Linked DNA regions of Homo sapiens. The protein of the gene in region 3 interacts with the protein of the main gene of each other region in a biochemical or structural test. Each region holds a gene or a part of one and is shown on either strand. Other genes may lie near its edges.

Region 1 (7,098 bases), on a different chromosome or scaffold from region 3:
CCAGGGTAGGCAGGAACGTGTTCAAAGAGGAGGAGACTCCGGACAGGGGCTGGCATGGGAGTGGGGGTAGGGAGGAGTGGGGGAAAGTGTTCTAGGGCAAAGAAGCATTGAGAAGATGTGAGGGGGACGCCTGGTTGTGGGAGAGGGAATCGCCAGAGAAGTAGAGAGTGTGTTTGGCGGGGTTAGGGTCCCTCCCAGGCAGATGGAGCCTTTTCCCAGGGGCACAACCTGGGCTGCCCTTGACTGAGCAGGTTTGAAGGTACTCTAGACCACCGGATCATCTTCACAACAGTCCCATTAACTAGACGCTCTTATTTTCATACCTTTTTGGTGAGAGAGTTTAGGTAAGGTACCCAGAGCCATGTATCAGGCAGTAAGTCACTGAACCACGATTTGAATTCAGCCGGTCTCATTCTTCTCTGCCTTGGAGTCCGGGAAATGGAGAATGTAGTGGAGGAGTCACCCCAGTCAAGGCCAAGCAGTGGGGTGGGGGTGGTGCTGGAAGAGGGGCTGGATCACAAAGGACAGGACCCGGCCAGGTATGTGTGTGCAGGAGGAGTGGAGCCCACAGTGGGATCTGAAGTCTGGGAAGGAAGGCCTCGTTGTTATACTAAAATATCATTCCTTGTTTCACCGGATGGACTGCATCTTTATTTCCTAAACCTGGCAACTGCAGCTTGGACCCCTGGAATGACACTGCACTTACAGCCACTGAGACTAGCTTAGGGACGGCAGAGGCCTGGCTCCCACTGCCGCCGGCCATCCACCCTAAGGACCCCTTCCTGAGGAAGGTCAACTCCCCTCTCTCCACGCATTTAAATAATCATCTGCCTTGCCCCAGCCACCAGCAGGAATAGCTGAATTCAAGTAAGTTAAGGGTGAACTCAGATGTGACTGCTCCCTTCCTGCCCTGCCTGGATCACAGCCCTGCCCCGGCCCCTCCCAACCTTGAGCACGACCAAACCTTTAACCTCTTTGAACCTCAGTAATCCTCATCTGCAAAATGGGAGTCAGAGTGCATCCCGGGGTCTTCGTGAACATTAACGACAGGGCCTGGCACTCAGCAAGCTCTCAGGCTCTGGAATGTTCTTCCCCAAAGAACCCTTCACTGGTTTCTCTTCATCCCTGTCTCTGCTGAAAGTCCACTCCTTAGTCAGGGTGGCCATTCCTGCCCACCTTCGCTAAGTTCCCTCGCAGTCCCTTCTGCTGCATACCCTCCTTTCCAGCCCATTCCGGGTGTCCTGTGATTGTGGGATATTCCAGCACCTTCTGAAAGGGAAGGGGCTGTTTGGTCACTTGGTGCTTAAAAGTTGGCAGGACGCAAGTGGGTGTTCAGTAAATGTTTGTTGAGTGAATGTGTGACGGTTGCTTCTGTGAGTGATTACGATGGTCCCACCATCCCTAATCCTGACTCCTCTGTGGCAACATTCCAGCCCTGCCTGCCCACACCCCCAGCCCCTGAACCTTCAGAGCAAGTAGGGGTGGCCTGCCACACTGGGGCTCTGGGCAACAGGCTGACAGCTCCCCACTGCAGGCTGGGAGCAAGCACCCTAGCCTGCCCTGCCTGGCTGGCGGGACAGAGAGAGCCTGGACACTTAATGGGGGTTGTGGTACACAGGGAGGGTCAGGATGCTGCCTTCAGGAGCCTAGGGTAGGACCTGGAAGGAGGGCCCAGCTAGGAATGGGCTAGATGAAGGGGAGGGGACAGTGGGAGAGAAGCTCCTTATCCCTCTCAGGTCGGGATGTCTGGGTTCAAGTCCCTCCTGCCCCACACCGATCAGGGAAGGGGGGCTGTTCCAGGCAGAGACCGCCCAGAGTTGGTGCTGGGATCCTGGCCAGCCTGTAGTCCTCAGAGCCCCTGTGACTGGCTGGGTCTCAAGTGCAGGAATGACAGGACACCGTCACACAGCCACTGTCGCGGCGGTGGTGGTTCAGGCAGAACCTCTGCAGACTCAGGCGGCCATCTGGCCTGGGAGCTGCCCTGAGGCCCCGCCCTGCAGCTGCTGCTGGGACCTACACAGCCCAGGGCCCTCGAGTCCTGCCCCCGGCCAGCAGCTGCAGAAGGTGACAGGGCAGGAGGCCCCTGAGCTCTGGGAGGAGGCAGCCGTCGGGCCCTTCCCTGGTGCAGCAGTTTTTGTCGGAAACATCTGGCCACAGAGCACCTCAGCAGTCCCAGCAGCAGCCGTGGGGCTGGGTTCTCTCCTGACCATTCTGTCTGGGGTGGGAGGGGGTGTTCTTGAAGAGAGGACTCTGCTTTCCCTCTGGGACGCTGGAGGAGAGGGAGATGGCCCTGCCCACTGGGAGATCCCCGTCTTGGGGGAGGGCAGTTCATGCCAAGGTGAAGACAGGACTGGAGTGTGGGGCCCACAGTGGGTTGCAGGCACCAGCAGATGCCAGGGCACCAGGCTGGGAAGACTGGGAGGCCTCCTTGGAGACAGCCAGTGCAAAATAAGCAAGAGGTCCAACCACTTCAAGAACAGCCCGCAATGTCACTGCCTCTTCCATGAGAGGGTGCCCTGCTCCCTCCCACATCCCCAAGCCTCGGCCACTTGCTGGCCTTGTCTCATGGCCCTCTTACCCTCTGCTTCCTCCCTGAATTCCTTCCTCCATCCTTGCATGGCAGAGCCCAGGATGGTGGACAGATACCAGGAACTCTTCCTCGGGGAGCAGTGGGCAGGTGGGACAGTCCCAGAGGGAGCCCCAGGTGGCTCATGGTGCAGGTTTGCTGGGTGAGAGACAGACACCAGACGCCCAGGCTCTGGGGGCAACCCTTGTGTCAGGTATCCCACCCAAGCGGCGCAGACCACTGGGCCTCTGACTTGGCCCCCTGGAGGTGGGCCCTTCCTGGGGTTACAAAGTCTGAGCTGGGAGGGAGCAGAGGTGCTCAGGCGAGAGGCAGGAATGGGGAGTCCCCTGTCTGAGGAGCGAGTGCCCTCATGCAGGGGGAGAGAGTCCTTCTCTTGGTCAGCCCCAAGAGGCAGGGATGAAGCCCGAGTTTTGGCTGCAGACTCTGTCCTGAGCACTGGGCCGAACCTGCTGCCTCTGTCTGCATCTCCTCCCACCCCCTCCCCTGCTGCCAGCTGAACTCACTCTGGCTGAAAATAAAAATGCTCCCCCAACCCCAATACTTAGCAGCCTCAGGAAGGTAACTCACAAGAGTCTGTCTTTCACAAAAGGGTTATTATCAACTGTGGGCCTCTGGAATGGGGGAGGGGCAGTTGTCGGAGGAACTTCTGGCTAGGAAGGGGTCGGGGTGGCAGTCACCTGCACTCTCCTGTGAGTGTCCAGGAGAAAGGGGTCTGTGTCCCACTTACTCATTCCATACCCGGGCCATCTGCCTCCCAGTGGACTTCGGACTGGGTGTCCGGGCTGACCAAGTCCACCCAGCAGGGAGGGCTCTGGGCTGTCAGCTGTCACAGCCCACCCTAGACACCGCTCCTCCTCTGTCTGGTGTCTGCTCCCAGCTCAAGGTGGGAGCCAGGCAAGGTGTGCCCCTCTTCTCCCACTCCCCAGCAAAGTCCCCCTTTTGTGAGTGTAGCTGCCAGTACCTAGGTGAATGGTTGACTCCCCTCGGAGCCTTCCTGCTCCTTGGAGGCCCACCTCCAACTGACCTCCTGTCCTGGCATCCTCCCGCACTTCCCCCAGAGGCACAAGGTCTTGGGATTGGGCCTTTTAGGTCACTCTTGGCCGCCCCCTCCACGCCCCCCAGAGTGGGGCAGCCTGAAAGTCAACCTAAGCCACCCCCGCCCCGCGCGCGGAGGCAGAAGTCCGGGATTCGTCCCTGACCTGTCTCGGGCCCCTTCTGCTAGGGTCACGGCAGAGCGAGCCCAGAAGCGCCGGGTCACTTTACAGACGGGGAAACTGAGGCCAGAGAGGGCGTGGCCCCGGGACGGGCTGGCTGGTGGCCGGGCTCCGTTAGCGGCCCAGCCCAGGCCCCAGGTCGTCGGGAGCTGCCCCTCAGCCCGGCCGCGCGCTCCCCGAGCGCGCTCCGCCCTCGCCGCCGGCCGCGCGGTGGGGACGCCCCGGGCGGCGGAGGCGGATGTGGGCGGGCGGCTCCGGGCGCGGGGCGGGCGCGGGGCGGGGAGAGGGCGGGCCGGCGGCGGCGGCAGGACCGAGCGCGGCAGGCGGCTGGCCCAGCGCACGCAGCGCGGCCCGAAGACGGGAGCAGGCGGCCGAGCACCGAGCGCTGGGCACCGGGCACCGAGCGGCGGCGGCACGCGAGGCCCGGCCCCGAGCAGCGCCCCCGCCCGCCGCGGCCTCCAGCCCGGCCCCGCCCAGCGCCGGCCCGCGGGGATGCGGAGCGGCGGGCGCCGGAGGCCGCGGCCCGGCTAGGCCCGCGCTCGCGCCCGGACGCGGCGGCCCGGTGAGTCCCCGCCCGCCGTGGCCGCCCGGGCCTGGATTTCCTCCCCGCGGGCCGGGCCGCTTTGTTCGCGGCCGGTCGGGCCGGGGCGCGAGCCGCGGCGCCGCCAGAATGGAGGAGCGGGAGCAGGAAGTGGCCGAGCGGGCCTGGGCGGGGAGGGCGCGGGGCGCGCGGGCCCGGCCAAGGGAGGGCGGCCCCACGCCGGGCGCCGGGGGTGCAGGCTGCCGGCCCCAGCCTCCCTCATGACCTTGGGGAGGCCGCTCCGCCGGGCGAGGCCGGGACCCGAGAGAAGGGACGCCGCCGGGCCTGGAGCTGGGGCTCGGGGTGCCCCTGCGGGCCGTGGGGCTCCCCGGGCGCTGGGCCAGCGAGGCAGCCGGCGGAGGTGCCCCGGGGTTGGAGAAAGACTCGCCGCGGCCGGCCTTCAAGTTTGTGGGAGGGCCCCGGAAGGAGACTTCGTTTCCCACGGACGAAAAGTTGTACGTGGTGGCGGGGTACCCAGGCTAGCCACAAAGGACTGTGACCCTCCTGGGCCCCGGAACTGCTTCCTGTCTTGGGTGGGCCCTGGAGGTCCTGCCCGCCCATCCCAGAGGCCAAGGCTTGGAGGGCAGCTGGGGCTTGCCCCTTAGATTGAGTATCCTGGGGCGCTAGCGAGCTTGGTCCTGTCGGGACGGCCTCTGAGTGCTGCCTTGGTCAGCGGGTGAGCTTGGGCCCCTGCTCTGCAGCCAGAGGCCGCCCCACATTCACTCCTGGGTCTCTCGGCCTTGCTCCAGGTGGCCACTTCTTGACTGCTTTGAGTCCCTCATCCGAGCGAAGGGCGGACGGAGTCCGTTGGTGGGGGTCCGGTTGCCTCTCCCGGGAGCTGTGTAGACTTCTCATACACCAGGGTTCTGGAGGCAGATGGAGGAGCCCTTTCGAAAACAGAGTATTTTTTTTTAAGTTGTGACTTAATAATAGTAGCAAGAATATGTGCTTATGGTAAAGGCAGGCGGCAGGTACGGAGGCTGTGGGAAGTCGGGGTCCCTCCGCCCCCACAGGCAGCCCTGTGCTGGCCTGGTGTATACGTTTCTGTGCAGACGTACACCACCCTGTGTGAGCACAGATGTATTTTTACACATGGCTCTGGACAGCTGTCTGACTCTGTCAGCAGCAGGCCTTGGAGGGGCTCAGGCCCGTGTGGGGGTGGGGGGACATCCAGAGGTCTTTGAGTCCAGCCCTCTGCCTCCAGGCCACGCCCACTCAGTGTCGTCAGAGCCCCCTGTGCCTGAGGCGTGCGCGGCTCGGAGCCCTGCCCTCGGAGTCCTGCGGTGCCTTCCTCGAGTCTGGCCTGCTTTCCATCCTGCTAAGTACTTGGGGCATTTCCCTCTTTGGGTAAGGTGTGGTCTTCCCTGTCCTGGCATTAGACACAAGGCAGTGGGCCTTCCTGCCATTCTAAGTGTAGCTTAAGACAATCAGTGCAAAGCAACCCTTTGTGGGTGTCCAGCCCTTGCCTCGGGAGGCCAGAAAGGTGGCCTGGGGGGAGAGCGTCTAAGCTGGCTGTGGAAAGACCCATGTTGGGATCCATTCCACAGAGGTCGTCAGGGGTCTCTGCCTGGCCTGGAGGTCCCAGAGAGGACCCTCCTCCCCTCAGGAAGGCCCATCTGGAAGGGTAGCAGAGGACTGCTCACAGGAAGAGCATGCGAAGTGCTCTTTCTGGGGATGCCTGTAGTTGGTGATGTGGGAACTGGGTTTTGAGGGATGCCTAGGAGTTCATCCATCAGAGGGGAAATGAGGAAGCCATGCAGGATCAATGGATAAAGTGTGCTCAGGTGAGGGTTGGCTGGTGGGCCGCTGCAGGGCGGGGGCCTGTCCAGTGCTCCCCCACTTACTTGCTGCCTCCCGACTGCTGTAATTATGGGTCTGTAACCACCCTGGACTGGGTGCTCCTCACTGACGGACTTGTCTGAACCTCTCTTTGTCTCCAGCGCCCAGCACTGGGCCTGGCAAAACCTGAGACGCCCGGTACATGTTGGCCAAATGAATGAACCAGATTCAGACCGGCAGGGGCGCTGTGGTTTAGGAGGGGCCTGGGGTTTCTCCCAGGAGGTTTTTGGGCTTGCGCTGGAGGGCTCTGGACTCCCGTTTGCGCCAGTGGCCTGCATCCTGGTCCTGTCTTCCTCATGTTTGAATTTCTTTGCTTTCCTAGTCTGGGGAGCAGGGAGGAGCCCTGTGCCCTGTCCCAGGATCCATGGGTAGGAACACCATGGACAGGGAGAGCAAACGGGGCCATCTGTCACCAGGGGCTTAGGGAAGGCCGAGCCAGCCTGGGTCAAAGAAGTCAAAGGGGCTGCCTGGAGGAGGCAGCCTGTCAGCTGGTGCATCAGGTTAGGGAGGCTGGGAAGGCCTTTTGGGGATGGGGGTGATTTGTCCAACGGCTGGGGGAGGTGGGAATGGGGAGGTGAGCAAGGCAGCAGCTCTCAGGGCCTGGCTGTTGCGGGTGGTGGTGGCAGGGGCTGGAGGCTCTAAGCCTAGAATAAGGAGAGGCCCAGGTCCAGGGAACTGTGTTCAATTACATGGATTTGACACTTGGCAGCCCTGAGTGTTTTGGGGAGAGGGAAGGCAGGCGGGCAGATGGGGGTCAGAGAGCTTAGAGGGATGGCAGCCCACCTGGGAAGGCAGGTGCGGGTGGAGCCCCCAGGCACGTGCAGTGGGTCTCTGGCTCACCCAGGGCGAGGAGCTGCCCTTAGCCAGGCGTGGCCTCA
Region 2 (7,858 bases), on a different chromosome or scaffold from region 3:
GAAGAATGGTGATGCTACTAACAGGGTTATTGATGTCTTGATAGAGCAGTGATTACAGATTTTCTCAGTCCACATGAGTTTTCCTAGACCACTGTATCAATCACCTTGGAGGCTGACATCTCAGAAGAATATTCTAAAGATCACACTTTGGAAATACGTTTACATTCAGCAGCATGCTCTACTAGAAAGAACTATAAACTTAAAAATCAGGAGACCTGGTTTCTGGCCCAAAGTTACTGATTATTCATGATTTGGGGTGCCTCTCTGAGCTTTTCATTTGTGTTTTAAATAAAAGCCCATCTTAGCAGGCTTGTAATGTGAGATGTTAGTAAAATTAAAAGTTATAAAGCACATTGTAAAATTTTCTTCTTTTGAGTTATTAAAGAATGAAGCGAATAGTACATATGGTTAATGACAGTTTAGCTAATTCATATAGAAATAGCTAATTAATACAGAAGTGACACAAAACTTGTGAAAGGAAGATTGAGTGCCAGTAATCCATAGCATTTCACCTGTTCTTTTCTGAGAATCTGTTACTTTATTGACTGCTTAAGGATTCTGATTTGTTTAGAATAGGAAGTATTTAATTAATTTCTACTATCTATTCCAGTTGTATATGTATCAGCTGTTCCGAAGTTTAGCCTATATCCATTCCTTTGGAATCTGCCATCGGGATATTAAACCGCAGAACCTCTTGTTGGATCCTGATACTGCTGTATTAAAACTCTGTGACTTTGGAAGGTAAGCTACTGTCCCTCTCCCTGCCCCTTCCCTTTTCCCCTCCTCCCCCTACTATCTTCTTTTAAATATATTCCTTTTGCAATATCAGCCTAAACACAGTAATTCTTATTCAAGAAGTATAAACTAGTGCAGCTGTGAGAGTAGTTTTGTTAGTTTCTGTCAAAATTATAAATGTATATACTCCTTCATTTAACAGTTTAACTTTTAGGAATTATTTCCTTAGGAATACATATTTACAATACAGTGTATATATAGGGATTTTTATTATAGCATTGTTTATAAGCATCCATTAGTAGGAAAATGGCTAAATAAATTACGGTACATGCAGAGTAATACATGCAACCATGAAAAAGAATGAGGCAACTCTCTGTGAACTGAAAGGGAATGATGTCTAGGAAACATTAAATGAAGAAAGCAAGATCAAGAGTATATGTATTGTATGCCACCTTTTATGTTTTAAAAACATACAGAATGTGACTATATATATATATATGTACACACACACATATATACACAAGTACATGTGTGGCTTATTTCTGAAATGGTACGTAATCCATAATATTTGATTGCCTGAGAAAGGATCTTTGGGAATATAATGTAGTTGGGAAACTCACTTTTTCATTGATTGTATTTTAGTATTGTTTGAATTTACATTAGGTATATATACTCCTTTTTCAGTAAGAACTAAATTTTTTCAAAATATTGATTATTATACATTCCTGTGTATCTTTTTAACTTCACAATTAACCTCAATTCAGGGATGAGATAAAAAACAATGCAGTGTTTTCTTCATTTTCCTCTATAATTTAACCTTTTATTCCACCCTTTTTCCTGCAAATTTCATCAAACTTTCTGCTTTTAAAAGCTCATTTCTTGGTAATATACTGTGAATTTGTAATACAACTTTATTCTTTCCATTTTCAGTTTTCAGTACTTTGTGCCTCTCTGATCTAACCTTTTAACATGTAGTCAAGCCTACATTCCCATGTAACTCAGGCAGTTACCCCGCTACTTCCTCACTGGTGTAATCACCTAATCTCTCTCCTCATGGTCCCTAAGACATCTTTACATAATTTGGATTCTCTCCAATTTAATTTTTTCACCCTTGTTACAGATTCTTTTCACCATAGCTCTATAGATAACATATTGCCCCACACTTGTTAATACCTGTGTTCCTATCCCTTTGTAATACTTTTACATCAATTCACAGTTTAAATTTGGGGTTTAACATAGGATATGTTTTCCACAGGCTTCTCTTGAGACAGATCCTTTAAAAAATAAGTAAATCTGTTCTGTCATGAGTTAATTTTTCTTAGTCTCACAATGTGTCCTCTTTCAGACTGTCCTCATTTTACTGTTTTCTAATTTCAGATGACCTATCACTTTGCAGGCCATGACTCTGTTCCCTGAACTATTTTTAAAAAGGGTGAAAGATAGTAAAACTCTTACCTGGTGTTTGAAACAAAGCACTACTACTTGTCTATAGGAAAAACTGCCCAAATCAGATATGTTTTATTGTTAATGGGGTGTCTTCACCATTGAGAGTGACTGACTTGGTAGGGACAGACTGAGACACCAAGGTTAGAAGAGCTTCTGTTCTCATATAGTGTCAAAACACTTGGTACAGCCCATTCTCTTGGGACATAAAATAGCTTTATTCTGATAAATTTGGAAGAGGGATTTCGCTTGTTTGATAGCTCATTTTTATAAACCCTCTGATTTTTTTGTTTTTAACAAAATTGGTTTGGTCAGATGGAGTTTGGGAAACACTTTGGACTGTACATTATCAGATTGGTAATTTGAACAAAATACTATTACTTTCTTCTTATTTTTTTACTAGATGAAAAGGGGCCAAAAAGTAGCTAAAGAACTAGTTGGGCTATTTAGGAACAAAAAGCTAGATGTGATCACAATATTGGGAAGTAGTTAAAACCAGTCTCCTCTGTAAGAGAGGCTGCTCCGTTTTTGTAGCTCCATCAGGTAGTGAAAAAACTTCAGGCTACAAAGCTTGGGTATTAACGTTTTGTCTCGTAATGAATTTTCTGAACATAATTAGCATCTATCTTGTTAATTAAAAAGCATCCTTTAGAAGATATAACAGTCTCCTATCAATTATGCTGAAAACTAAATGTCATAATTTTCATGCAGCCTAAAAACAGGGATTAGTATTTATTAATTTATGAAATGGTTATTGTATGTCAGTACTTGGGGAGAGGGTTAAAAAACAAACTTCAAAACTAGTGATGAAGGAAAAAGAAGTTAAGGTTAGAGTCATCATTGACTAGAAATAAATGGAAGAAAAGAAATCCCAGTCATTGAAATCCTTGTGACTACTTTCATCTGTCTTTACCCTGGTTTTCCAGTACCTTTACTTTTTTTTTTTGGCACTTACTGTTTTACTGTTTTGATTTTGTTGCATTTTGTCCCTTTATTTATCTTTATTATTAATGTATGTCAGAATGGCTGGCTTCTACAGCAGTTTATTTTATTCTGTCTTTGGATTATCTTGGGCGACATCTCAAAAGAAATTAATTGTAATTTATTATACTTCATATTTAAAATACATGCAATGAAGTATTTTAGTAGGAAAATTGGAATAAGAAAACATGCAATTATACTTACTATAGCAGAGTTAGAATTTATAGGCAGTGAATCATTTCTGCCCTGAAGTTGAAGGGCCTGTTTATAATTTATTGGGTAATAAATGTTTATGTGGTTAATAAATTGACCAAGATATGGAAAAATAGATTGAGTCTATAAGCCTTGAAATATTCGCCGTGAGTCAGAAGTCAAAATGCAAGACAGTGGCCAGTTTCTCACCCTTTTTAAAGAAATACATTGGGTGAGGAGTATTCATTCTTAGAATCCATTGTCATGCTTTTTGGTGGGGGAGGTACCTCTTTTCTGCCCTTGCTTCTTTGTATTTTAGAGGTGGAATTTGGGGAACAGAGGATCAGAAGAAATTCAACACTTATCCTTTTTTGCTTTTGGTGCCTTCTTAGGTGACAAACGCTTTCTTTAAAAATTGCTATTCTTTTTTGCAGAGCAAGGTGATAAAATTGTAAATTTCTTTTATTAGAGATAGTTACAGTTTACATTTTCTTTTTCATATATGATTCAAATGATGTGAATCTTATAAAATCATTTGATACTGTGAAAGGATAGCAGTCTAAGTTCTTTAAGGTTTAGATTTAAAGAATTTCTGCTTTTTATTTTTATTTTTTTTCTGTTAGTGCAAAGCAGCTGGTCCGAGGAGAACCCAATGTTTCGTATATCTGTTCTCGGTACTATAGGGCACCAGAGTTGATCTTTGGAGCCACTGATTATACCTCTAGTATAGGTAAGTACAAATCTGAATATAATGCTCATAATTATTAATTGCTTCTTGATTTTGGTAATTTAGTACTACTAATCTGTACTTTTATTTCCATGGAAAGATGGATATATCCCATAATGTTTTTTTTCTTAAAGCTTGAGATGCAAACATGTATAGGCATACCTCATTTTATTATACTTTCCAGGCACTGCTTTTTTTTTTTTAACCTCTCAAAGGTTTGTGTCAACCCTGAGTCAAGCAAGTCTGCCCACACTAGTTTTATAAGAGCATGTGCTCACTTCATGTCTTTGTGTCATCATGTCTTTGTGTCACATTTTGGTAATTATTGCAACATTTCAAACATTCTCATTGTATCTGCTATGGTGATCTATGATCAGTGGTCTTTGATGTTACTATTGTAATTGTTTTGGTTTGCCACAAACCACAACAATATAAGACAGCAAACTTAATCGATCGGTGTTGTGTATGTTATGAATATTCCACCAGCTGGCCATTCCCCATCTCTCTTCCTATCCTCAGGCCTCCCTATTCCCTGAGAGACAACAATATTGAAATTAGGCCAATTAATAACTCTGCAGTTGCCTCTAAGTGTTCAAGTGAAAGGTACATTTTTCACTTTTAATCAAAAGCTAGAAATGATTAAGCTGAGCAAGGAAGGCATATCGAAATTGTGCCACACAGTTAGCCAAGTTGTGACCAGAAAGGAAAAGTTCTTAAAGGAAATTAAAGTGCTACTCCAATGAACAGATGAATGATAAGAAAGTGAAACAGCCTTATTGCTGTTACAGGGAAAGTTTTAGTGGTTTGGATAGATCAAACCAACCACAACATTCACTTGAGCCAAAGCCTAACCCAGCAAGGCCTGAACTCCCTTCAATTCTGTGAAGACAGAGAGGTGAGGAAGCTACACAAGAAAAATCTGAAGGTAGCAGAGGTTATTTCATGAGGATTAAGGGTAAAAAGCTGCACCATGCCATAAAAGTGCAAGGCAAGCAGCAAGTGCTGATGTAGAAGCTGCAGCAAGTTATCCAGAAGATCTAACTAAGATCATCGATGAAGGTGGCTACATTAAACATCAGAGTTTTAATGGAGACCAAATAGCCTTCTACTGAATTGGAAGAAGATACCGTTTAGGACTTTCATCTCTAGATTTTCTAGAGATGGAAGACTTCTTCTAGAGAGGAGAAGTGTCATTGCCTGGCTTCAAAGCTTCTAAGGACAGGTTGACTCTCTTGTGAGGGCCTAATGTAGCTGGTGACTTTTAAGTGCAAGCCACTGCTCATTTACCATTCCAGAAATCCTAGGGCCCTTAAGAATGATGCTGAATGTATTCTGCCTGTGCTGCATAAATGGAGCAACAATGAGTGGATGATAGCACATCTGTTTATAGCATGGTTCACTGAATATTTGAAGCCCACTGCTGAGACCTACTACTCCAGAGAAGAGTATTTCTTTCAAAATATTACTGCTTATGGACAGTGCAACTGGTCACCCAAAGGTTGAGAAATACATTTGTAAGGCTATAGCTGCCCTAGATAGTGATTAGTCTGATGGATCTGGGCAAAGTCAATTTTAAATCTTCTGGAAAGGATTCACCATTCTAGGTGTCACTAAGAACATTTGTGACTCAATCACATGAACAACATTTTGGAAGAAGTTGATTCCAAGCCTCATGGGTGACCTTGAGGCATTCTAGACTTCAGTGAAGGAAGTCTCTGCAGATGTTGTGGAACTAGCAAGAGAACTAGAATTAGAAGTGGAGCCTGAAGATGTGACTGAACTGCTGCAATCTCATGATGAAACATAAACAAGTTGCTTCTTTTATGGATGAGCAAAGAAAGTGGTTTCTTGAGGTGGAATCTACTAGTGGTTAAGACGCTGTGAATATTGTTGAAATGACAACAAAGGATTTAGAATATTACATAATTGTAGTTGATAAAGCAGCAGCAGGGGTTGAGAGGACTGACTCCCATTTTGAAAGTGGTTCTAATGTGGGTAAAATGCTATCAAAGAGCATCTCCTACTAGAGAAAAATCTTTCATGAAGGGAAGAGTCAGTTGATGTGGCAAACTTCATTGTCACTTTAAGAAATTACTCCAGCCACATCGTATAGCCTTCAGCAACTGCCACCCTGATCAGTCAGCAGCCATCGACATCAAGGCAAGACCCTCTGCCAGCAAAAAGATTACAACTCACTGAAGGCTTAGATGATCATTAGCATTTTTTTTTAGTAATAAAGTGTGTTTAAGTTAATGTATTACATTTATGTTTTTATACAATTCTATTATACAAGTAATAGACTACAGTATAGAGTGAACATACCTTTTATATGCACTGGGATACCAGAAAATTGGTGAGACTTGCTTTATTGTGTCTTATTGTTATGGTCTGGAACCAGTTCTGCAACATCTCTGACGTATGCCTGTATAGAATTTTTCAAATTCTACTTTTTAGAATTTAAGGTATACCTACTATTCTATTTTTCTTCCTTGGACTGTTAGAATCATAAAGCTAATAGCTTTTACCTTAAGAATTTAAATTAATTCTAAGTAACTTTTTTTTACTTTCTTATTTAAAATCCTCCTGAAATACTTCTGAGCATGATTATACTAGTTGGATAATTTATTAATTAATGTTATTTCATTAAGTTAATAATGAAAGTGATAGTATGGCCATATTGCTAACATTTCCTTCATGCCATCTCCATTATTTAATATAAAATCAGCTTAAATCACTAGTAGTTTTGCTAGATGCACTGATTCTGCAGAAGTATGCACCCAAGATGTTTAGTCATAGAAGGAACTGAATAGAGACCATTAGCTTTAATCATCATTGACCTTCTCAAGTCTTCACCCCAGATGTTTAGTGATAGGAGGAACTGAATAGAGACCATTAGCTTTAATCATCATTGACCTTCTCAAGTCTTCACCCCAGATGTTTAGTGATAGGAGGAACTGAATAGAGACCATTAGCTTTAATCATCATTGACCTTCTCAAGTCTTCACCCAAGATGTTTAGTGATAGAAGGAACTGAATAGAGACCATTAGCTTTAATCATCATTGACCTTCTCAAGTCGTCACCCAAGATGTTTAGTGATAGAAGGAACTGAATAGAGACCATTAGCTTTAATCATTATTGACCTTCTCTTTTACTACATCTTAGCCCACTAGCCAGGAGTGAACAGAGAGAGCATGATCAGCTGGACATGAATAGGAAGCTAACAAACAAGGAGCAACTTTAAGCTGGATGTGCAAGTGGAAACCAAAATTATTTTACTCTTACATATTGTTTCTGAAGAGAATTCCTTTAGTCCAGAAACAAACAAAAGCATGCAAATAATAAACCAAAAACATCCCCACAGTAACAGAAAACCAAAACAAACAAAAAACAGACCTGGCCTGGTGCAGTGGCTCACACCTGTAATCCCAGCACTTTGGGAGGCTGAGGTGGGCAGATCACTTGAACTCAGGAGTTCGAGACCAGCCTGGGCAACATGGTGAAAACCTGTCACTACCAAAAATTAGCCGGGCGTGGTGACATGCCCCTGTAGTCCCCGCTACTTGGGAGGATGAGGTGGGAGGATGGCTTGAGGCCAGGAGGCAGAGGTTGCAGTGAGCTGAGACTCCACCACTGCACTCCAGCTCGGTGACAGAATGAGACCCCCCCTCTCAAAACAACAACAGCAACAACAAAAAATAGAACAGACCTTGTGACAGTTTTTTTGTCTTTTTGATATAAATAGAAATTCTCTGATACAAGCAAACACCCTAATCAGAAAC
Region 3 (8,199 bases):
TTTTTCTGTGCCATCAAAGTAAAAGTACCAAATACCAGGTGTCCTTATCAGTAAACAACTTCCTTAATAAGAACAATGTTTTATGAAAATCGATGAAGCAGTTCCCATCAATTTAAAAAGGAGTTCATACAGAAGTACAGAGATAGTACCACATGTGATAATTTTGTATAAATAAGACTTTTTAAAAAGTTTAATTTTCACACACTTTGAAATGAGAGGTGAAGAAAATCTTTTGTATTATACAGGTGTTTACTATTTATTTAGTGGCAAGCTTTTTTTTCATGATGACTGGTGGCTTCGAGTAGCATGTTACCTATCAGATTTTTTAAAAAAAATTAAAAAAAAATTTCCCTTCAAGGTAGATGTGATAACAATAACTAAGAAATTTAATACTTCCAAAAAACCTGTGCTAGGATGAGAGCATTTAGAAAACAGATATTTGAAAGTGTTTCAGTTTTGTGATTTTTTTCTGAAAAAACTTAAAATATAAATGTGTCACATATATAAATTTTCATATCTGCACACTTGAAAATCATGGGAACAGAGTTTCCCAATCTGCTTCAAAATCTTTCAGATAAATGGTTTTGCAACCATTTTGCTGAAAATTTCTAAATGTTATGTCTTCTAGTTTGATAGGAAAACTGATTGACATTAGGCAAGATGAATATTTGTTAGCCAAATTACTAGTTTGATAGGAAAACTGATTGACATTAGGGAAGATGGATATTTGTTAGCCAAATTACATTTCAAAAAGCTTTTGTATCACTGGGTGGACGAAATGGGAAAATGAGTTTTATGGTTTAGAAATGCGGCCAATACAGTAGTTCTTCCATTTTTAACTTTGCATTTTGTGAGGTCTCAGCTATTAAAACCCTATACCCACATAAACTCTTCTTAGAACTAGACTTTTAAATTTCAGTATCACAAAGTATATAACAAGAAATGTCGAGAATAATGAAGTATATTCAGCCCCATTGCTTTGTATTCGTGTCATTAGTAAAATAACATTAAAAATTACTTTTAACCATTTTTATTTTGTGTTTATGTTTTAAGTTCTAATTTAATTTAAAAAGTGAATATATATGTATTGCAGTGTATGTGCAAAAGTTCTTTTTTTAATGAACAGATGCACAAATAATTTTGATTGTTTATAATGACCTGTTAAGTAAGTCATTATTATAATCAACTGTTTATAATTTTGGTTTAGAATAGCCAACAAAATTTTTCTAAAATAGTTTTCCTAAAAAAATTCATGAGTAAAAATTTGTTTGGGAACAAGTAAAATGAGAAAACGGGAGAGAAAAATCACTCCAAATTCTACCATCTGTAGATAATAACTGTTGAAATTTTACTGCATACCCTTCTAGATTTCATTTTTTAACATATCTTCATCTTCCATAAACATAGGTTTATTCTTCATTTAAAACTGTTAGTCATAGAGAGTCTCTTTAAAGAATTATTTAAAAGGAAATTTATATGAGATTTTGGGACAGAGATTAAAATTTAAAGACACAATACTCAGGGGCTCTGTTCTGCTGTGACCAAGACATAATTAACACTGGATGGGATTGTAACATTTGTTAAATTTAATTCATTGCTTGTCGTGTAAATGGCCTTTAGATGTCTCAAATGTGCGGTTTAACTATGAAGTTACCAAGAAATAGTCTGACCAAATTTTGTGGCTTTTTACTTGCTTTATCTTCAAATGGCCTATGTACCAAGGCAGAGAGATTAAAGGGAACTAAGATTTTGATAAGGCTTTTGTTTCTGTTCAGTATTACAACTGTATCCCAAACCGATAAAATATGGTTTACATACTAGAATTATTACTAGAATTCTAGTTATATACTAGAATTATTAACTGCATGCAGGAGGGTAGAGAATAGAACCAAGGGAGTGACTATGAATGGAGTAATTGTATCCTCAGAATTAAGCAGTTATCTTCCAAAGGTATGGTCCTGGACTCGATCTTCTTATAGAACATTTTTTATCAATGACTAATACTACCAGAAAAAAAAAAACAGTCACTGACACAGCAAATGAAACCTAGCTGGGAAACGAAAACTAAGAAGAGGAAGTCACATTCTCAATGACCAGATTAGAATCAAAATAAAAATTGGAGAAGTAGTAAGAAGTAAACAAAATGAGTAAGTCATATGGGTCGGCTAAAAGATGCAAGGAAGAAAAAGAAGTTTCAAAAGGAGGAATAGCTAGCAATTGGCAAGTATCAAAGAAGAAAATTTAGGGGTTTTAACAAGTATCAATCTGACTATAAACAATAAAGTAGTGCTACTGTTTAAAAAGCAAACACATTATAAAATGTATTCCTTACTAAAATTTATCTAAACTTCTGCTTCCTAGTTGAGTGTCACTTGCAAACACTAATAACTTGTTCCTTTTCACCAGACCTGCCATTCACTCTAAGAGCAAATATGGAGAACCTAACCACTCAAACGACTGAAATAGTAACAGAGAAAAAACTAGTTTCGATGAAAGATTGAATGTAATTTTTTCTCCTGCAAGAAATAGAGTAATTGAATAATTGTCTTTAATAGCATACAGTTATAATGATTAAAATACTACTGGATTTAGGCACTTATGTACCTCAAGTAACTTAAAAGTAGATTAGTTGTACTCAACTTTCATAAAACACCGAGAGAAAATGAAGTTAAATTGTATTAGGAAGGAGTTAATGTAGAATATAGAGGGATTTTATAATATGATAAAAGATTTGTTGAAAATCAGAACAACTGTAAGAATCTGGTATAATTTCTACTGATAGATCTCTACTTTTCTTTAAGGGTGAAATGTGGTGATACATGGAGGGTTGAAATCCAACCCTCTGCCAGACCTCAAGTTTTGTGATTTTTGTTTTAGGCAGTAACTAGAATAAATAAATTGCACCAAGATTTTTAAAGCTATAACGGAGGGAGCACGCTTGTTGACATTAAAACTACTACTGGTAATGCCAGAAGACATTTCTTTAAAGTACTGTAATTGTGTTACATCCTTAAATCTAAGTGCAGTATCAGCCGCAGATATCTGATTGTAGACTTGGTTTAAAAAAAAAAAAAGAACTGGAATATATAGATAATTGGCAATATTCTAAGGAAGCAGTGTTCCTATTTTATTTTCCAGATGATGCTACTTTATGTTCCTTTTATTTTTCTTCTTACCACTTATTTTACAAATGACATATATTAACTATAGGATATTTAAAAAGTAGAGACAAGCAAACAAGAACAAAAAAGTGCACGTGTAATTCCACAAATGAGGGGAGAAAATCAGCTAACATTTTCATGTATATTTTCAGACTTTTTTCAACATACATGTACATATAAAATATTTTATAATGTATATTTTTAATTTCGTACATATTTAAACTTTTATTATAAAACAGGAAATTTGTAATATTTTGCTTGATTTAATATCATGAACATTATTTCCTATTACTAAGTCTACCTCTTCACTTTTAATCGTTGACATAATTTACATAATCCCTACCTTTGGTCATTTAAGTGTTTCCAAATGTTCACTCTTATTAACAACTTCAACAAATATCCCCAATATTGCTTTTTTTTTCTTTTTTAAAGTAAGCAGAGAATTGGAATAAATTAGAAATCCAGGGCACTTACTCATCCAACAGATATTTATTGAATACTTATTTGTGCCAGATATTGCATTAACTGGGAGCTGGGAAAACAGAACTGGTTAAGGCTAGATCTCCACTTTTAATTAACTTTCAGTCTCATGGAATAGAAAGATGAGCTGAGGAACTGGAGAGGACAAATCGCTCCTCTCTTTAAAGTAAATGTAGTTCAAGAGAAAGCTGCTGGGTCAGTGGCCAGGTGTGTGTGTGTGTGTGTGTGTGTGTGTGTGTGTGTGTGTGTGTGTGTGTGTGTGTGTGTGTGTGTGTACACATACGTATTAACTAAGCAGTTTCTAGAATTAAAATCCCTAATGTTAATAGGCTTATGCATAAAATAGATTAATCCACAACACCTGCATGAGCCACGATCCTAGGAGCTGCAGAGCCATAAAAGCCGGACACAGTACCCAGCAGCCTCGCCTCGGCTCCCGGCAGAGAACACCCTCTCCCCGGCCTCCCGGCGCTGGCGCGATCCCACCGCGGGGACCGCCGCCCTGGTCCCCGGCCGCTGCACCCCCTTCTCGCGTCCTACGCCTGGCGGCCAAAAACAAAACTGCCTAACCACTTCCACTTGGAGAAGCCCTCCTAGCCGAGAGGGGCATTCTGAAGATCAAGGGCGAGGCTGGAAAACAAACTTTGTTACGTGTTAACTTAGTTGGAGCAAAGCGATTCCAGGAAAGGAGTCTAAAACTGTGCGCAGCGTTTTTATAAAAAAATGTTTCAGTGGATACACGGGGGAGCGGGGCCGTCTATGGCAGGGCTTCAGAGCAAGCAGGAGACTGGCAGGCCGGCGAGAGCAGGTGGCCCGCCGGCCGCATCCCGGCCTCCTCCTCCCCGCTCGCCTGCATTTGGACGACGGCTTCCGCGGCGGCCGGAGGGGAGCATCCTCTACACTGCCAACTCGCATCAATGGGACTTTCCTCGTGGGAACTGCCCCTCCCGGCGGACGTGCCCTCCGGGTCCGGCGTGGGCGGGCGGGTGCCGCGAACTCCTTGCAGACCTTGGGTCGGCTCAGTGCTCCCTCAGCGCTGGGGCCGAGCCTGCACCACCCGCCGCCGTCGCCGCCGAGGGGGCGGGGGAGGTGCCGCGGGGGGCGGGCGCGGCGCGCGGGGAGGGGAAGGGGTTCTCGCGCGATTGGGCGAGGTTTCCGGTGTTGTGACTGAAACCCGTCAATATGGCGGCGATCGGCCGCGGCCGCTCTCTGAAGAACCTCCGAGTACGAGGTAAGCCCGCTGCAACCCTCACTCCCCACCGCCCGGCGCCCGCCACCCCTGGCACTTGCCTTCCCCTGGCCCTGGGTTGGGGAGCGAGCCGGGGCGCTGGCCGGAGCCAGGGCAGCCGCAGCTGGCCTGCGAGCCAATCCTAATTGGGGCTGTGTGTCTGTTTCGCGCAGGGCGGAATGACAGCGGCGAGGAGAACGTCCCGCTGGATCTGACCCGAGGTAACGCGGGGCGCCGCGGGCGCCGCGAGGGCGCGCTGCTGGGGAGGAGCCGGGTCCGGGGCTGGGGGCCAGAGGCAGGGGCGGGCCCCGCACGGGACCGGCGGGGTGCGGGGGCCAGAGCCGGAGCCCCGCCTGCCGGCCCGCGGGAACCGAGCCCGGGGCCGCCTCGCCGGACCCATCCCCCTACCCAGCGCCCGCTTCCCTCGCCCGAGCCCTTCTCCGGGCCTCGGGCTGCTGCGGGTGCGGGGGAGCCCCGAGTGGAACTCGGCAGACCCGGCGACCCTCTGGGCTCGAGCTCCGGCAGAGTGGTTTGCACCTATCCCGGAGTCCGGCAGCCCAAGCTAGGGGCAGCTGGAGGGAGGTAGAGGCTGTTATTTAGGTTGCAGGAGGATGTTTGAGGGAAGAGCGACCACATCCTGCCCTCCCCGTCCCCGGAGCAGAAGCCGGACCTGCTCGGTGCTTGCCGACTGCGTGACTGCTTTCCCCTTTGCCCACCGTCCTGTGGGGACCCGCAGCATTGATAACTTGGTAGTGAAACCTAGAACTGGTCATTACTGCTAAATGTCTGGTTTATGCTGTTTCCCTTCTGCTTCCCTTTCCCGGGCCGCTGGGACTGTAGTTGGCTAAAGACCGCCCCCTCACCCTGCTGCAGGTTCATTGTTTACCTTCTGCAGTGGAGATGGGTTTGTTTACACCTTCCGAACTGGGGAAACTCGGGTGATATTTTTAATGACCTAATCCCGTTACTAGCCAGTGTTTCCTCTATCACTTACAGTACTAGAGTTTATTCGACATTATCTCGTTGAAGATTTAGTAGTTACGTACAAGATTCTTTTCTCTTCCACGGTAAACAGGATTGAGCCTACTGATTCCGACGAAGTCATATTTCACACGGGCTGTAGCTTGGAGTGTAACCCGGTTCAGCTGTACAGAATCAGTTTCTGAGGTCTATAAAACACCTTAGGAAGTAAACAAAAAAACTTGTTGTAGACATTCTGTATGAGATCAGTTTTTTACCCTATGTCGTACCTGACGTAATGACTGTTATCTACAGTAATTTGTTAAAGCTGGGCTCCTTGTTGACAACGGCTAGAGTGAAAGCATAGTGCATTTTCTAATTTGTTTTATTTTGCTTATCACGATGTAAGATTACTGTTTTATAAACTGAATGGTCAGCTTTCACTTAGCTACAAGAGTACATTTTTATAACTTAATATTTTATTCTGAAAGTTCAGGGACTTAGTTTTGGGTGAACTAGGTCCTTTTACAAGACAGTTTCTAAAATATAATACAATATAGTAGAGCTTAAATCCTGAAAATGGCTACTAATTAGATTATCAATGCACTAATTTCCACCATTTTTTTCAGCAGATCGGTTTTGAGAATTAGTATAGAAAGATGTAAAGCTTTTGACTTCTGTGCAACTGTTTGGAAACTTGACTATAACACACATGTGAAAAATCTATATAAAATAGATTCACTAGAAAACTTCCTAACAAGGATAACTTCTACAATTTCAGGTCTGTAAAAGATGTAATTAGTGAGTGATTTAATTTATATACAGGCATATGTGTTTTAGATGAAGGTGAAGGGAGCCCTTAATAAACTTGAGTTTAACTTGTGCATTAAAAACCTGCTCAGATGTGGTGCTGGAAATATATAGTTGTATTTTAAATTGAGTTCGTCGAGCTCCTATATATAGTGGTTTCTCTGCTTGGTGTCAAAAATGTTGAGTTGTGGAAGAGCTTAGGTACACATCTGATTTGATAATTTTGGCTTACTCCAGTTTTACTGAGGCACACAGGTAACTGTTTACTATTTAAAATGCCATATTAACTGAGAATTTAGTAAGCACCTATGTCCATAGGTATTTCCAGGTTAATATAGATAGTGCAGAAAATGCTGTTTTCGGCTTGCCCTGACAAAATGTACTTCAGTTTGGAATAAAGTATACACAGCCATTTAAAACTGATTGCAAAAATAAAGAGTGAGGGATTGTTTGAGATCTGTATTTCTAAATCATAAGGAAGTTTGGAATTAATCTGAATCAGTCATTTTATAGTGATACTATTGTTTTAAAAAGTTGCTGTTGTGACAGACATTTCATTGTTCAAAGAAGGCTTGAAGAAAATTCATGAGGAATTAAAGTTTAGTAATAATTTGAGAACTGTGAGGCAGTTTGGGTTGCAGCTGAAGGGCAGCTGTTTGTGGATTAGATTACAGTATGTAAAAAGATAAAGTTTGGGCAACCAAAAATTTTTTTGTTTAATGCCAAGGCAGTGTTTGCTTTTATTCTTATTTTTTAAATTTAATCTTTGAGAGATTCATTGTGTAGTTACCTAATAAAGCTCATTATAAAATAGAGGACATGGTCATTGTAATCCCTAAAGGATCCATCAATGTGTAGTGAAAAGAGAGTTGACTATAAAGTCAAATCATTCTGGATTGTAACCTCAGCTGTGAGATTTAATAGTTGGGTGATTTGGGGCAAGTTATTTGACCTTGCTTTACCCCTGATTTCTTCATTTCTAAAATAAGAGATAACTTCAAAGGGTTAAGAATGTGAAAAGTAAATGAGCTAGTTCTTAATTAAAGTACTTGGCATAAGACCGGATACTTTGTAAGTGATATTTAACATTAGTTGCCTTCCTACATTGTGAAATCACAGTTTTAAAACTCACATTAAAAATACTTTAAACGGTTGTTTTGAATATTATAAACTTGTTAATAAGGAATTATGGTATTCGAGCTTCTTTTTTTTTTGAAACATACTGTTATACTAATTGGGTATAGTCTATCTGAGTTAGAGTTCTTGAATATAACAATTGTAAAGCAATCTGTGACATTACCAATAAATTAAGTCTAAGCGAAGTGCAGTATGTTATATTCACTTAGGATAAAATGTGATACTGTATTTCATAGAACCTTAGAATTTTTGTCTCTGACACCAGGACATTTCATACTATTTAATAATGACTTGGCTAGCCTTGCAAGCTTCTTGAGGCTCAGAAGAATTCTAAGTTTCGTTGGTTTTGGTACTTGTGTTAGTGCTGTGGTTCATACATAGAGTGCCTCAGTTAAAAATTGTTGATGGATTAATTTTTATCTA
Region 4 (8,473 bases), on a different chromosome or scaffold from region 3:
GGTTGGAATTTAAATTCTTCGGATATTGGAACCAGAACAGGCTGTAACTGATTATTTTTGCTGTGATTCGTGCTTACTGGAGCCTCGGGAAAGAGGGAGACAACATGTAAAGAGAAGCAATCTGTTTGGAAAATGAAAATACAGTTAAATTGCTAATGAACCCTTGTCAAAATCAAATGTCTCCCCTTAGAGGCTGATGATTGTCTAGTCTAATATGCATTTTTTTTGAGTGGGTCAATTGGACTCTAAGACCAACAAGATAAAAAGGCAGCCTTGCATGTCACTTGGACCACAGCTGTCTGGCCATGCAGCATGCCTTCACTGCTGCTGAAGAAAAGCAGCTGCTTGTTGAGAATCTCAAATTCTCAGATCCTAATTGCCTGGCCCTGACTCTAAGCTGAAACCTGCTACTGTCTGCCTTGAGCTGTTTTAGCCTCAACACGAGCTATGCTGAACTGAAAGCAGGCACAGGCTCAATGACCAGGACTCAGACGTTGGGGCCGTTGGAGATTAAGGACCCCCTCCGTGGAGCGCTAAACTATGAAAACGTCCTGGAACCTGGCTGAAAAGGGCTTATTCTCTAATGGGACCATCTAAGATCAAGCTGCTGATAGGCTCTTTGTCTCTAATACAGAGGCTAATTGCATTCCTAACTTCTAATATTTGCCAAACGCTCCAAGCTGGGGAAGGGCACATCGCAAGGACTATGACCTCTCCTCCTGCTTTTGACAGACCAGACTCAAACCTTCTCTGGGGCTTCTCTCACTGCTGTTGACTTGTTGCATTCAGCTTTTGGGATTAGTTGCAGCTTGCAACAGTGGACTGACAGCCTGACTCTACTTCCCTCACTTTTCTCCCAGCACACACAGCTTAGTAAGGTAGGTGGATTATTAAAACGTAGCTGTCCCCAGAAAGGTATTAGGCTTTTCTAGTCTGCTCATTGAATAATCAGGACAAAAGGGGTAGAAGATTATGTAAACACATTTTGAAATTTTTAAAAATTCAGGGTTTCATCCTTTATTAGTTTGCTAAGGATACCATAACAAAGTACCACAAACTGAGTGACTTACACAATAGAAACTTATTTTCCTGCAGTTCTGGAGGCTGAAAGTCCAGGACAAGGTGTCGACAGCTTTAGATTCTTCTGAGGCCTCTCTGCTTGGCTTGCAGATGGCTGCCTTCTTACTGTGTCCTTGTATGGTCCCTCTGTCTGGGTGTCTGTGTCCTAATCTTCTCTTTTAATAAGGATACCACTCAGGTTGGATTAGGGCCCATCCTAACAATCCCATTTTAACTTAGTTACCTCTTCAGGGCCTATCTTCAAATATACTCACATTTTGAGGTACAGGTAGATGGTTAGGGCTTCAGCATGAATTTTTGTGGGGACATAATTCAACCCTCCACACATAATTACCAATTTCTGAATGTCTTTCTGGTTAAGTTGCATAAAAACGTTTATCTACTTGAACTCTAGGATGATAGTTAAAAAAAAAAATGTTGGCCAGGCGCAGTGATGGATGCATATGATCCCAGCACTTTGGGAGGCCGAGGTGGGCAGATTGCTTGAGTTCAGGAGTTCAAGACCAGCCTGGCAACATGGTGAAATCCTGTGTCTACAAAAAATGCAAAAATTAGCTGGACATGATGGCATGTGCCTTTGGTTCCAGCTACTTAGGAGGCTGAGGTAGGAGGATGGCTTGAGCCCAGGAGGCGGAGGTTGCAGTGAGCCAAAATCGTGCCACCGCACTCTAGCCTGGGCAACAGAGCCAGACCATATCTCAAAAAAAAAAAAAAAAAAGTTTATCTACAAAAATGCTTTTGTGCCTCTTACATACAACCCTTCCAGAGGAAAGGCCTAGCTGAGAGTAAGAGATGGTTGAAAAAATGCAATGTTATGATTGCTGAACAGGGCACGACTGTTTTTGTAATATTGGAGAAAATAATTAAAGCCTGGCACCTGGGGAGGCTTGATCCCTGGAAGCCTCCTCTTGCTGAAGGAAAATTCCCAGTGCTGCCTTTCCATGTGCTGTGAGTGCTTTGAGTTCAGACTGACAACAGAGTGGGTCTAGCTTCTATGCTTTCCATGAAGATCTCCCACAAATGTCATCCATGCTCATGAGATGGATCAACTTGTATCCTGAACAAGCAAAACTGTTTGGGACTCACTGCCTTCAGGCAGTCCCTTGGAAGCCAAGGACTCTGGGAACTTTTCAGATGGGACTGGAAACACTTGGGCAGGAGTTCCCCTGGTAGGAGGTCTGTTCACCTGTACAGCCTAATGGATGTCCTGCTTGAGGTGCCCTAATATTGCAAATTCTTTGTTTACAGGGGTACCACCTGTGCCCCTGGGACTGTGCTTCTGTACATGACCACAACTCTCATGATGTCCCCTCAGCCCTGGAAAGCATTTGGGTTAGCTTCCGCTTACTGGTCAGAGTTATACTGTGCCTGAATTGATGCCTCAGGTCAGGTTGAAAAAAAAAAAAAAGGTTCAGACAGCAATTAAGGGCTGGGCACGGTGGCTCATGCCTGTAATCCCGGCACTTTGGGAGGCTGAGGTGGGCAGATCACCTGAGGTCAGGAGTTTGAGACCAGCCTGACCGACATGGTGAAAAGTAAAAATACAAAAATAAAAAAATTAGCTGGGTGTGGTGGTGTGCACCTGTAGTCCCTACAAAAATAAAAAAATTAGCTGGGTGTGGTGGTGTGCACCTGTAGTCCCAGCTACTCGGGAGGCTGAGGCAGGAGAATCGCTTGAACCCAGGAGGTGGAGGCTGCAGTGAGCCAAGATCACGCCACTGCACTCCAGCCTGGGTGACAGAGCAAGACTCCATCTCAACAACAACAACAAAAAGGAATTAAGGAGGAAGCCACCTGGCTTCCTAAGATAGACTTTATGGTTAATGGGATTTATTTTAGCTGGTTAAGTCCAGGACCCCTACCAGGAAGAACTGAGGTCCATATTTGAGGTTGGTCTCACCCTTTTGCATGTGGTCCTACTAATAATAATTTTGCTGTAAAGAAGCCTCAATAAGGAGATGGACTGTGTGAAAAGAGATGAGAAAGCAGGCCTGTTTGCAAGGCTGGCCCTTGGCTGGCATCTGAAAGCTTGGATTTCAGGAGGGTTCTCATTACTCCCTAAATGATAAGAGTGGCTCACTGTGCCTAAACTGTTCGTACAAACAATGTGGGTTATGCCCAACATCTGCTTTCCTTCTGGGAGTCAGATTTTCATATGTGTTAGGCAGAGGATGAGGTGAGCAGCTCCCAATGAGAACCCTGAACACTGAGTCTGTAATGAGCTTCCCTTGTATACAACATTGCACATGGGTTGTCACAACTGATTGCTGGAGGAATTGTGTCCTATGTGACTCTGCTGGGAGAGGACTGTGGGAGGCTTACACCTGGTTTCCCTGGACTTTGTCCATGCGCTTTTTTCCTTTGCTGATTTTGCTTCCTAGCCTTTCGCTGTAGTAAAACATAGCCATGAGTATGACTACAGGCTGAGTCTGTGAATCTCCTAGTACATCATCAGACTAGGAGGTGGTGGTGTTGGCACCCCCCAGCACAGGGCACAAGGGAGACTTGCAGGGTGTTTGTCATGTTCCCTTTCTCAATCTGGGTGTGGTTTACAGATTTGTTCAGTTTGTGAAAATTCACTGAGCTCTATGAACAATTATAATATGTACATTTTTTTCTGTAAGTGTATTAAATTTCAATAAAAAGAATTCACACTATAGGGGTACAAAATAACTTAATTTTTCAAAGTCTTCCTTTTATTCAGCCAACATTTTAGTAAGTACCCTTTTTTTTTTACCAAGCACTGCTCTGGGAGCTTGGGACATGGGGTAGAAAGGACGGCATCATTGTCCTCATTGTCCTTCAGCTTAGCTGCAAGGCAGGTGAAGGATGCTTATAGTATGGTTGATTTTTGCTGGGCTCTATGAAGGATCAGAGGGTGCTAAGGAGGCACAGAGAAAGAGCTTTTAACGTGGGTATTTTACTGTTCCAGGGTTGCCACTCAAGTACCTACAGAACAAACGGGTGTAGCTGTAAACTGTGGCAAACTGAAAGCATGTAGGCACAGAGTAAGTAGCTAGAGCTGATTTTTTTCAGGAAAGGCCACAAATCCCAACTTTTATGAGCTCCTCTTTTAAATGCTGTAAATGTTTTACAATGGCGGGGCGCGGTGGCTCACGCCTGTAATCCCAGCATTTGGGAGGCCGAGGGGCAGATCACTTGAGGTCAGGAGTTCAAGACCAGCCTGGCCAACATGGTGAAACCTCTTCTCTACTAAAATTACAAAAATTAGCCGGGCATGGTGGTGCATGCTTGTAATTCCAGCTGCTAGGGAGGCCGAGGCGGGAGGATTGCTTGAACCCGGGAAGCAGAGGTTGCAGTGAGCTGAGATCGTGCCACTGCACTCCAGCCTGGGCGACAGAGCAAGATTCCGTCACACACACAAAAAAAAGGCGTGGGGGGAGGCCAAACAAAACCCCGCAAGACACATTTGGCTATGACCTGCCAGTTTGCTAGGCATTCTTCCAACCTTCCCTCCCTCTGACCAAGAAACTGAGTGTCCACTATTTTAGGCCCTGGGAAATTCAGTAGCGAGGAGGCCAGACAGCTTCGTTGCATCATGGGGGGCTCTGGTACTGTGCTTCTCCAACTTCAGGATGTGTAGGAATCACCTGAGCAGTCTTGTTGAGAGGCGGACACTGACTCGGGAGGTCTGGGGTAGGGCCTGAACGTTTGCCTTTGCGGTTCTAACAAGCTCTCAGGTGATGGCGATGCTACTGTTCCCTGGCCCCGAGGTAGAGGAAGATTTAAGTAAAAGCTTCCTGGAGGAGGCGCAAGTGAACCGCAGGAGCTTTCCCGGACGCCCGAGAAAGGGAGAAACCCCGAAGGAATTCCTCCTCTCTCGGGGCTGGGTCTCCGCATCCACGCCGGGTTTGGTTTCCCAGGCTATCCCACGTGTTCGGGCGTCCGTGTCAATCAGGTTTTCCCCGGCTGGGTCCGGGTTTAAAGGCTGCTGCTGCGCAGGGCGCTCCCATGGTGCCGCGCGGCGGGCGGGTTTGGATTTTAAATCCCCGCGGCCAATCAGTGGCGCGCAGGCTTTTGTAACGTTCCCAGCGCCGCGTTTGAATTCGGGGAGGAGCGGAGCGGTGCGGAGGCTCTGCTCGGATCGAGGTCTGCAGCGCAGCTTCGGGAGCATGAGTGCTGCAGTGACTGCAGGGAAGCTGGCACGGGCACCGGCCGACCCTGGGAAAGCCGGGGTCCCCGGAGTTGCAGCTCCCGGAGCTCCGGCGGCGGCTCCACCGGCGAAAGAGATCCCGGAGGTCCTAGTGGACCCACGCAGCCGGCGGCGCTATGTGCGGGGCCGCTTTTTGGGCAAGGGCGGCTTTGCCAAGTGCTTCGAGATCTCGGACGCGGACACCAAGGAGGTGTTCGCGGGCAAGATTGTGCCTAAGTCTCTGCTGCTCAAGCCGCACCAGAGGGAGAAGATGTCCATGGAAATATCCATTCACCGCAGCCTCGCCCACCAGCACGTCGTAGGATTCCACGGCTTTTTCGAGGACAACGACTTCGTGTTCGTGGTGTTGGAGCTCTGCCGCCGGAGGGTGAGTGTCGCTGCTGGGGAACTGGAACTGCCTGCGGGGCAGTTGGAGCGCCCAGACCTGGAGCTGCTGGAAAGAGTACCCAGCAAGGGAGAGCCTGGGACTTGGAGCTGCTAGAGAAGGGTGCTGGGAGCCTCCCGCTTACGTATGGAAAGTGTCTTTGGTAAGGGCTTCTTGGCTCTGGGAGCTGCTAGAGGAGGGGGTTCCAGTGAAGTGGAGTCTGAGTCATGTTGCTGATAGGGAAGTCAGCTTCTGGACGCGAGGTGCTGGGGGGAGGGGTGCTGGTAATGGACGCTAGGGCCCTGGAGTACCCAGGGAGGAGTCCCAGGTTAGTGATGCCGCGCCCTGGGAGCTTCTGGGGTGGAGCTGGGTCAGTGGGGGGGTAGTTGGAGCCAGACTTCGGGCCTTCCGGGGGAGATACGAGTCAGGAAAGGGATCTGGTGCTGGGGACTCGGAGCTTCCGGAGTGGGGCTGAGAGAGGACCCCCAGGTAAGGGGGGAAGCTAGTAGGAGAAGGGGTGCTGCGAATGGTTGTGGACAGTGTTAAGGCAGGGTCCAGATGCCGCTGTGCTGGAGAAGGAATGGGGTGGGGGCATAGGGAAGGAGAGAAACCCACCAAGACCCCTCTTTCATCCCTTGGGAGTCCAGAGTCCAGTCCTGTGCTTCCTTTGCCTGGTAACCCTCTCCCTTCCCCACCGGCCTCAATCCACCTCCCCATCCCTCCTGCCCTCTCCTTCCCACCCACAGTCTCTCCTGGAGCTGCACAAGAGGAGGAAAGCCCTGACTGAGCCTGAGGCCCGATACTACCTACGGCAAATTGTGCTTGGCTGCCAGTACCTGCACCGAAACCGAGTTATTCATCGAGACCTCAAGCTGGGCAACCTTTTCCTGAATGAAGATCTGGAGGTGAAAATAGGTGAGTTGCTGAGCCTGCAGGGGTGCTTGACATCACTACAAGAGGCTGGAATTTGGAGGAGGCTGGGAGAAAGGAAGGAGACAACCCACAAGTCAGTATCTTGCCTACAGATGCATTATTTTTTTGTGCCCCAATGCAATATTTTTTTTTTACAAAGAATTTGAATTTGTTTTTATTTTTTAAATTGGAAGGTTTGATTGAACAAAAAGTTTGATTCAGAACTCCTTTTAAACAGGTGAAAGCTTCAGTAATACGAGGACAGCATTTTCTTAGGGCAGCCCTTTGCTGGGCTGGAAAACAGCTGTCCCCTTCAGACTTCTTTGCCACAGTCTCTACTCCTCCCTATTCTTCACAGACTTGCCAAGTCTTGGAGGTTAACTTGCTTGATCCTTGAAGGCATTGGAGTTTTACTATCCCTGTCAGTTCCTGTTTCAAAGCATAGCCCCTTTCTAAAAGGAGGGGTGAGAAGTGTCACTGGAGGCACCTCCCTGGTGTCAGCATGGGAGGAAGATTCCTGGGCAAGCCTTGCTACATACAAGGAGCAGAGGCTTGTGGGATCAGATGGCCCTGGTTCTGGATGGTCAAACCTTAACTAGCCTTCTGCATTGACAGATGTCAGAGGCTGGCATCTAAGTACCAACTCTTCCTCCCTCTGTCCCAGGGGATTTTGGACTGGCAACCAAAGTCGAATATGACGGGGAGAGGAAGAAGACCCTGTGTGGGACTCCTAATTACATAGCTCCCGAGGTGCTGAGCAAGAAAGGGCACAGTTTCGAGGTGGATGTGTGGTCCATTGGGTGTATCATGTAAGTTGGGAGTTGTCTCTGGACCAACCTGGTCTCAGCAGGGGCAACTTTGGGACATCCTACCTGGCTGACCTTTTCTGTGGACCTTTCGGCCTGCTTTACAGAAAGCCTACTCCAAGGGACAAGTCATCCCCAAACAAAGCCTAATTGTCATATCTTTCCCTGTCACTGGTGTATCCTGTCGGATTTCTGCAGCCTAGGTCATGGGTACAGCGGAGGAGGAGGAGGGAGAGTCTCCACAACCTTACTGTAGTCCTTTGCTAGAGTTGTCCACAGGGCAGCATCACCATCATCTGGGAACTTGTATACACAATCTCAGGACCCAGACTACTTACTGGATCAGAATCTGGATTTTTAACAAGGTCCCTTGGTGATTCCCTTGCACAATAAGGTCTTAAACACCGATGAGCATTAGCATGGTGGGGGAAATTAGGCCAGGAGTTACAGATGGAAAGATGATGTGCCAGTGGTCTGTCTGGATTAAGACCATCAGCAGCGGTTGGTGGCAGGCAGAGGCTTGGGCCTTTTCAGGTGTTATCTTTCTTGTTTTGGGCCTAGGTACTGGAGAGTTAGAAATGAGTTGTAGCAATGGCTTTCATACGTCTTTGCAGTGGGGTTTTTTCAAATGAAAACTTGAAGACTTAAGTACAGAACTGCTAAAGGTGGAGCTGCTTCTGTAAGCGCAGGTAGCCCTTTGACCTGTTTTGCATGACAGGCAGCATCTGAGGCCCTTGCACAGAGTCCTAGATGACCACAGGCTATAGCTAAAAAATCACTGGCCCTTAAGAATCCTGGTCTCACCATGTGTATTCTGCTGAGGGCTTATTCTAGCCAATGTCATGGCTTCTGGGGCTGCTCAGTGGACTTAGGGATTGTCTTCAGGGGCCCCAGAGTTAGAGTGAGTGTCCAGAGGATGCCTGACCTTTGTTCTGACCCTGAGATGATTTCTCTCATGTCTGGGTTGTGGCTGGGAGACTGGTGCCAAATCCTACCTTGTGCTTACAGGTATACCTTGTTAGTGGGCAAACCACCTTTTGAGACTTCTTGCCTAAAAGAGACCTACCTCCGGATCAAGAAGAATGAATACAGTATTCCCAAGGTGACTAATGATGCTTTAAGTTTACATTTATTTTG

The links.
Region 1: of the proteins of RICTOR (region 3) and AKT1, one has a biochemical effect on the other in vitro, tested with the Homo sapiens proteins (7 studies listed by BioGRID, with this or other methods).
Region 2: of the proteins of RICTOR (region 3) and GSK3B, one has a biochemical effect on the other in vitro, tested with the Homo sapiens proteins (2 studies listed by BioGRID).
Region 4: of the proteins of RICTOR (region 3) and PLK1, one has a biochemical effect on the other in vitro, tested with the Homo sapiens proteins (one study listed by BioGRID).

What each region holds. Positions count from the first base shown.
Region 1 is NC_000014.9:104,792,749-104,799,846, reverse strand, and holds the start of AKT1 (RAC-alpha serine/threonine-protein kinase), read left to right. Parts: upstream 1-4,098; 5' UTR 4,099-4,363; intron 4,364-4,639; exon of another isoform or gene 4,640-6,542; 5' UTR 6,543-6,720; intron 6,721-7,098. UniProt on the Homo sapiens protein: AKT1 is one of 3 closely related serine/threonine-protein kinases (AKT1, AKT2 and AKT3) called the AKT kinase, and which regulate many processes including metabolism, proliferation, cell survival, growth and angiogenesis.
Region 2 is NC_000003.12:119,908,927-119,916,784, reverse strand, and holds part of GSK3B (glycogen synthase kinase-3 beta), read left to right. Parts: intron 1-610; coding exon 611-741; intron 742-3,974; coding exon 3,975-4,081; intron 4,082-7,858. UniProt on the Homo sapiens protein: Constitutively active protein kinase that acts as a negative regulator in the hormonal control of glucose homeostasis, Wnt signaling and regulation of transcription factors and microtubules, by phosphorylating and inactivating glycogen synthase (GYS1 or GYS2), EIF2B, CTNNB1/beta-catenin, APC, AXIN1, DPYSL2/CRMP2, JUN, NFATC1/NFATC, MAPT/TAU and MACF1.
Region 3 is NC_000005.10:39,071,002-39,079,200, reverse strand, and holds the start of RICTOR (rapamycin-insensitive companion of mTOR), read left to right. Parts: upstream 1-4,801; 5' UTR 4,802-4,823; coding exon 4,824-4,872; intron 4,873-5,042; coding exon 5,043-5,090; intron 5,091-8,199. UniProt on the Homo sapiens protein: Component of the mechanistic target of rapamycin complex 2 (mTORC2), which transduces signals from growth factors to pathways involved in proliferation, cytoskeletal organization, lipogenesis and anabolic output.
Region 4 is NC_000016.10:23,673,720-23,682,192, forward strand, and holds the start of PLK1 (serine/threonine-protein kinase PLK1), read left to right. Parts: upstream 1-5,169; 5' UTR 5,170-5,213; coding exon 5,214-5,621; intron 5,622-6,364; coding exon 6,365-6,533; intron 6,534-7,194; coding exon 7,195-7,339; intron 7,340-8,344; coding exon 8,345-8,438; intron 8,439-8,473. UniProt on the Homo sapiens protein: Serine/threonine-protein kinase that performs several important functions throughout M phase of the cell cycle, including the regulation of centrosome maturation and spindle assembly, the removal of cohesins from chromosome arms, the inactivation of anaphase-promoting complex/cyclosome (APC/C) inhibitors, and the regulation of mitotic exit and cytokinesis.